Homo sapiens: one gene and its partner. The protein of the gene in region 2 interacts with the protein of the main gene of each other region in a pairwise test. Each region holds a gene or a part of one and is shown on either strand. Other genes may lie near its edges.

The links. Proteins that work in one complex are often made in the same cells at the same time.
Region 1: the proteins of TBCCD1 (region 2) and LURAP1L interact in binary tests that used the Homo sapiens proteins (3 or more experiments, as listed by UniProt).

The regions. Positions count from the first base shown.
Region 1 is NC_000009.12:12,777,895-12,781,649, reverse strand, and holds part of LURAP1L (leucine rich adaptor protein 1-like), read right to left. Parts: intron 1-3,755.
Region 2 is NC_000003.12:186,560,686-186,564,440, forward strand, and holds part of TBCCD1 (TBCC domain-containing protein 1), read right to left. Parts: intron 3,688-3,755; 5' UTR 3,645-3,687; coding exon 3,309-3,644; intron 1-3,308. UniProt on the Homo sapiens protein: Plays a role in the regulation of centrosome and Golgi apparatus positioning, with consequences on cell shape and cell migration.

The DNA.
Region 1 (3,755 bases), on a different chromosome or scaffold from region 2:
GATAAAGAAAATGTTGTACGTACGCACAATAGAGTACTAATCAGCCAGAAGAAAAGAATTAGAATCTGTCATTTGCAACAACATGGATGGAAGTGGAGGATTTCGTGACAAGTGAAATAAGTCAGGCACAGAAAGACAAACTTGGCGTGGTCTCACTTATTCGTGGGAGCTAAAAATGAAAACAGTTGAACTCATGGAGCTAGGAAGTAGAATGATGGTTACCAGAGGCTGGGAAGGGGTAGCGAGCTGGGGGGAAGTGGAATGGTTAATGGATACATTAATATAGTTAGAAAGAAGTAATAAGAGCTAACGTTTGGTAGTACAACAGGGTGACTACAGTCAACAATAATTTATTGTACATTTAAAAATAACTAAAAGGGGCCGGGCACAGTGGCTCACACCTGTAATCCCAGCACTTTAGGAGGCCGAGGCAGGCAGATCACCTGAGGTCAGGAGTTCCAGACCAGCCTGACCAACGTGGAGAAACCCCATCTCTACTAAAAATACAAAATTAGTCGGGCGTAGTGGCACATGCCTGTAATCCCAGCTACTCGGGAGGCTGAGGCAGGAGAATCGCTTGAACCTAGGAGGCAGAGGTTGCGGTGAGCTGAGATTGAGCCATTGCACTCCAGCCTGGGCAACAAGAGCGAAACTCCATCTCAAATAATAAAACTAATAATAATAATAATAACTAAAAGAGTATATTTGGAATGTTTGTAACACAAAGATATGATAAATGGCTGAGCTCATGGATTAAACAAACAAACAAAATGTCAGAAGTATTTCCTCTGGAGTATAGAGTAAAATGGGGAGGAGTAAGATTAAGTGAACTTTTCTTCTTATTTATACAATTTATTACTGTATTATTGGAAGTTTTACAATGAGAAACATTTATTTTTTTTAAAAAAAAGAAACAATATTTTTAAAGGAATGCCAAAAGATCCATTGGTAGATATGTGATGAAATTACTATAAAAATGTTCGTTCACAGTAAATGGGCACATTTCGTAGTGCATATAGTATATAGTATAGTTTGGGATTACTTTGGATCAAGCAGATAGCCAGGCTCACAGTGGTTCTTGTTTGAATAACAGGCTGGGAATCATAGTTAATTAATCTCTGTAAGCCATAGTTTCCTTATCTGTAAAATGAAATAATACTGTCCTAGTTATATCTCAACATCCACCACAGTGTTTAGCCCCTTTTTAAGAAAATGAATAATTCAGGTTTAATTTAGAGGTCTAAGATCGAGACTTTTGAAATATAACCTTGTTTTTTTTCCTTGTGAATTCTATGAGTGCAGTTTACATGAGCACAATTCAGATGGATGTGTTTTCAACCACACACCTGGCAAGTCACCACACAGTGCTGTGCAACTGATATCATTTGAGAAGAAGAGGATAACTGAGTTCCTGTTGGAAAAACAGCAATTTGAAAGTACTGCTTAAATGAACACAAGATGGTGTCAGGATTCCAAGTTTCTAGTTCTTTCTAGGGAGTTACCTAAGGTCTAAGTTTTATCCTGAACAGAATCTCTTGGGGAACTAAAATGCTACCAATGAAAAGCTCTTGATACTCCTACATCATGAATATTATTGAGCTCTAAAACTTGAACTGGTCGTGTCAGGAGAACCTTTAACTGCTCATGGCAGTTCTTGTGGACTGAGAGGAAGTACTACTGGAGATCTTGGTGATAGTGGCCAAAAGGAAAGGGTATGATTATGATTGCTGGGAAGCAGATGGCTTTTGAATATGTTCATCCAAATCCTAAGCCAGAGACTGTGTTTAGTGCTTGTTCCTCCTGGGAAGGCTTATGGTAAACAAAAATACAGTTTAACATGTTTAATGTTTTGAAATTCTGGGAGAAGAATAGAAATATTCATTTGTTCCTAGGTGTCCACATGAGCATGGAGGTATTCTAAAGTGTAAGAAGTGACAGCATAGGCATGGTTAAAATCTCAGATTCTGACCTCATCCTGGCTCCTCCACTTACTACCTTCAGCATTAGCTCAATAAACCTCAATGCTTTGTCTATAAGATTATGGTGACAATTACATTTAGTTAAAAGATTATAAAGTTTCGGCCGTACACGGTGGCTCACGCCTGTAATCCCAGCACTTTGAGAGGCCGTGGCGGATCACGAGGTCAGGAGATAGAGACCATCCTAGCTAACACGGTGAAACCCTGTCTCTACTAAAAATACAAAAAATTAGCCGGGCGTGGTTGCAGGTGCCTGTAGTCCCAGCTACTTGGGAGGCTGAGGCAGGAGAATGGCCTGAACCTGGGAGGCGGAGCTTGCAGTGAGCCGAGATCGCTCCACTGCATTCCAGCCTGGGCGATAGGGCGAGACTCCGTCTCAAAAAAAAAAAAAAAAAAAAAAAAAAGATTATAAGATTTCAACGGGATAATACATATAAAATGTTTAACTAGCACCGTGTCTTACACATAGTAAAGTCTCACCAAAGTAACCAAATGTAGTAGTACACCCTTATCTATGGCTTTGCTTTTAGTTACCTACAGTCAACTGCAGTCTGAAAATATTATAGTATTTTGAGAGAGAGAGAATGAGAGAGAAAGAGAGAGAGAGACATTCACATAGCAATACACTGTTTTATTTTATTGTTAGTTATTATTGTTAATCTCTTACTGTGACTGATTTATAAATTAAACTTTACAATAGGTACGTACGCATAGGACTAAACAGTCTATATAGGCTTTGGTACTATCCACAGTTTCAAGCATCCATTGGAGGTCTTGGAACATATCTCCCATGGATAAGGTGGGCTACTGTATTGGTTTAAGTTCCTCAGATTTCCTGGACTACCTGACATTAGGCTCTACAATTCTTTCATACATGCTACTTCAATCAGCAGCATGCTTAGCACATAGCATGTGTTTAATAAAAGTTAAATTTAAAATAAAAATCAAGATTTCCAGTTGAACTGAAGCTAGGGAAACCTACACATATTTTGTGCGTTAGTTTGTTTGGAAACATCGTCTCTACAGAGAGTATCTGATGACATGGGAGATGACATGATAGAGTCAGTCTGGTGGAGAAGATATCTAGGCCTTCATCAGTCCCAAATCCACATTATCCATGTAGGGCTGCTTTTGTAAGATCAACGGAACCCATGTCATTGATGTAATGCTCATTACTGCCAGCATCCTTACTGTTTTTGAATATCTATGTAATAGTTGTTTTTCTTATATTATTTCACTGAATTCTTAAAATGCCTTAATGGAGATGCTCTTATTCCTATGTTAACAAGAAAGCTGAGTCTCAAAGTGGTTCTATAACTTGTTCAGTGCCACACACTAGTGAGTGAAAAAGCCATGACTAGAATGAGGGCCACAGAGAGCGGGACAAGCCTTTTTGCCGGGGAAGATAAGCTAAATGTCTCCCTAGACAGGCAGCCCTACATCCTATTGGGTCTTATTGATATCCTGACTTGCTCTAGACTTGTCTGAAACCCTGGTTTATCTGGCTTCAAAGCTTACGAAGCTTCCACCAGACCAGAGGACCATCATTTGAGTAGTGATGAAATATTCTCCAAAAAACAACAACAAATGCGACAAATTATCAGGGACCTTAGAGACTCTCAACATAAATCCCAGTTTCAGAAATTGTGTCTCAAAAAAGTAAAGTCTTAATAAATATTAGGTTGGTGCAAAAGTAGTTGTGGTTGCCATTAAAAGCAATGGCAAAACAGCAATTACTTTTCCACCAACCTATAAAAAAAAACTAATTGTGATTCA
Region 2 (3,755 bases):
TTCCTTATCTCCTGAAAGGTGGTTTACCTTCCCATCTTCATGGGAATAATGCCTTAGCCAATGGAATAAAAGTAGTCTTAGTTTATGTCAAATCTGAGCAAAAGTTTTAAGAGGCATCATGAGTCCAGAAACAAACTCACACATATATGGTCAACTAATTTTCCACAAGGGTGTCAAGAATACAAAACGCAGAATAGTCTCTTCAATAAATGATGCTGAGAAAACTGGATCTACAAATGCAAAAGAATGAAATTGGGACCATAGCTTATACCATACACAATCAACTCAAAATGGAGGAAAGACTTAAATGTAAGGGGTGAAATGGTAAAACTCCTAGAGAAAAATAAGGAAAAAGCTCCTTGACATTGGTCTTGGTAATGATTGTTTGGATATGACACCAAAAGCACAGGCAACCAATGCAAAAATAAGTTGAATTATATCAAACTAAAAAGCTTCTGCACAACTAAGGAAACAATCAACAGAAGAAAAGGTAAACCATGTATCTGGTAAGGGGTTAATATCGAAAATATATAATGAACTCCTGCAGCTCAATAGCAAGAAAAACCAAATAACCTAATTAAAAAATGGACTATGGACCTGAATAGACATTTCTCCAATGAAGACATACAAATGGCCAACAGGTATACGAAAAGGTGCTCAACATCACTACTCATTAGAGAAATATAAAGCAAAACCACAATGAGATATCACCTCACACTTGTTAACAAAAGATTAACAAGTATTAGTAAGGATGTGAAGAAAAGGGAACCCTGGTACACTGTCAGTGAGAATGTAAACTGGTACAGCCATTATAAAAAATAGGGCCGGGCGCGGTGGCTCACGCCTGTAATCCCAGCACTTTGGGAGGCCGAGGCAGGCGGATCATGAGGTCAGGAGATTGAGACCATCCTGGCTAACATGGTGAACCCCATCTCTATTAAAAAATACACAAAACTAGCCGGGCATGGTGGTGGGTGCCTGTAGTCCCAGCTACTCAGGAGGCTGAGGCAGGAGAATGGTGTGAACCTGGGAGGTGGAGCTTGCAATGAGCTGAGATCGCGCCACCGCGCTCCAGCCTGGGCGACAGAGCGAGACTCCGTCTCAAAAAAAAAATAAATAAATAGTATAGTGGTTTCTCAAAAAATAAAAAAGAGAACTACCATACGATCTAGCAATCCCACTTCTGGGTATTTATCCAAAGGAATTGAAATCAGGATCCTGCAAATACCTGCACTCCCATGTTCATTGCAGCATTATTGATAATGGCCAAGATATGGAAGCAGCCTAAATGTCCACAGATGGATGACTAGATAAAGAAAACTTGGCATGCATATATAATGGAGTACCATTTGGCCTTAAAAAAGAAAGAAATCATGTTGGGTACAGTGGCTTATGCCTGTAATCCCAACACTTTGGGAGGCTGAGGTGGGAGGATCACTTGAGGCCAAGAGTTCAAGACCAGCCTGGGCAACACAGTGAGATCCTGACCTCTATGAAAAAAATACAAAAATTTGCCAGGCATGATAGCACACACCTGTAGTCCTAACCACTCAGGAGGCTGAGGTGGAAGGATTGCTTGTGCCCAGAAATTCCAGGCTATAGTGAGCTATGATTACATCCCTGTACTCCAGCTTGGGCAACAGAGTGAGATCCTGTCTCTTAAAAACAGAAAGAGAGAGAAATCCTGCCATTTTCAACAACATGGATGGACCTGGAGGACATTATGCTAAGTAAAACACGCCAGACACAGAAAGACAAAGCTATGTAATCTCACTTATATGTGGAATCTAAAATAGTCAAACTCATAAAAACAGACAGAAGGGTGACTGACAAGGGCTAGGAGGAGGGGGAAATGGGGAGGTTGATGGTCAAAGGCTACAAAGTTTCCGTTATGCAAGAAAATTAAGTTCTGAAGATCTACTCTACAGCATACCGCCTAGAGATAACAATTACATGTTGTATACTTAAAATTCTCTAAGACAGTAGATCTTATGTTAAGTGTTCTTAACAGATACACACACAAAATAACAAGCATAAAAGAGGAGGGGGAACCTATGGGGGGTGATGGGTATGTCTATGTCCTTGACGGTCATGATGGTTTCACAGCATATACTTATCCCCAAACTGATTGAGCTGTATACATAAAATAAGAATTTAAAAAGAGACATCATGAGTTTCCTCCATTCTGTTGATCTTCCCTTCTGTTATAAGAATGGGAATGATCTACACAGAAGCTATTTCTTTAGCCTGTGTCCCTAAATGGGGAAACACGGAGCCTGGACAAATGCCATAGCAAAAATGAAGCCCACATGTAAAATGGGCAAGAAATAAACCTTTTCCCCTGTAAGCCACTGGAATTTCATTTGTTTGTTCTTAATGAATGAAATCAGCTTTTAACAAAGCTGATTAACAGTGACTCCAAGTGATAGAAGCATGGATCCCTGGTCATCGCTTGGATGACAGCAGCCCAGAGATTTGTCCAACCAGGAGCAACTGTGTTAGATTGCTGCCTGAATGAGAAATAAACTGTTACTGTTCTAAGCCACTGAAATACTGGGTTGTCTATTACTATAATCAGCCTACTTGATTAATATACTTTCTCTGTGAAGTCTTTCCTTATCACTGAAATAAATCATTCTTTATTCAATTTCTGTACTTTGTGTATTCTTTTATTATACATATCACACTATTAAATAGCATCTTTTTTTAATACCAGCTTCCTCTACTAGTCCATAAGCTCCATGAGGGTTGAGATGCTATCCTAATCATCTTTGAATCCCATCATGTAGCAGATGTTCATTTTAAAATAGTCAGGTGCTCTGACTGTAACATATCAGTTGTTCATAACACTCATTCACCCCAAAATCTTTTTAAAGTCAGTAAAATATTTCCCTTTTTCAATAACAGGGTCTCTGTAACATTACTGCTTTGGGAGTAGGTGAGTAAGGTCTGGTAAGTAAGGACTAATTCATTGAATACATGAAATACTGCCAAACTGGAACTACTAAAACTCAAATGATAACTTGAGATTACAATGGCCATTAGCCTAAAACCTAAAATTTTACAGCTAATACAAAAATTAAGAATGGTTTATTGGGCCAGACATGGTGGCTCATGCCTGTAATCCTAACATTTTGGGAGGCCGAGGCAGGAAGACTGCTTGAAGCCGGGAGTTCAAGACCAGCCTGGGCAACAAAGTGAAACTCTGTTTCTATCTAAAAATTGTAATAAGCAAAAACATTTTTTAATTTAAAAAAGAATGGTTTCTTTCCAAAAGTAATTAAGTATACACACATATCAATCCGTACCTGATTTCTCTGCTTTTCAACTTCCTCCTCAGACATGCAGTTGGACAGAACCTCAGACCATTCCAGGCGCTCCTCAGGTGTCTTCATTGAAAGACTATCAAATATTTCGAAGTAAAGCCACGCCAGGTCCTTGGCCAACTGCAGCTTCCCACAAGCGATGTGCCTCCATGTAGACCAGTAGAGGCGCGGGTAAGCTCCTTCTGTGGCCCGGATTTGCACATAGGTGGATATCTTCCTGAGATAGTGAAGACTAAACTTGGATGGAGGGGGGACCTGCAAGGCACCCACTATAAAGGGTTCTGCTTTCACCCAGAGGAGAACTCTGGACTGATCCATATTATCTCTAAGGACATCAGGGTGAAAAGGCTTCTTTGCATACCTAGGAAACAAAGTTTCTTCATAAACTGATTTGAAACAAGTCTCATTTATGCATTTTTTCTTGGAAGG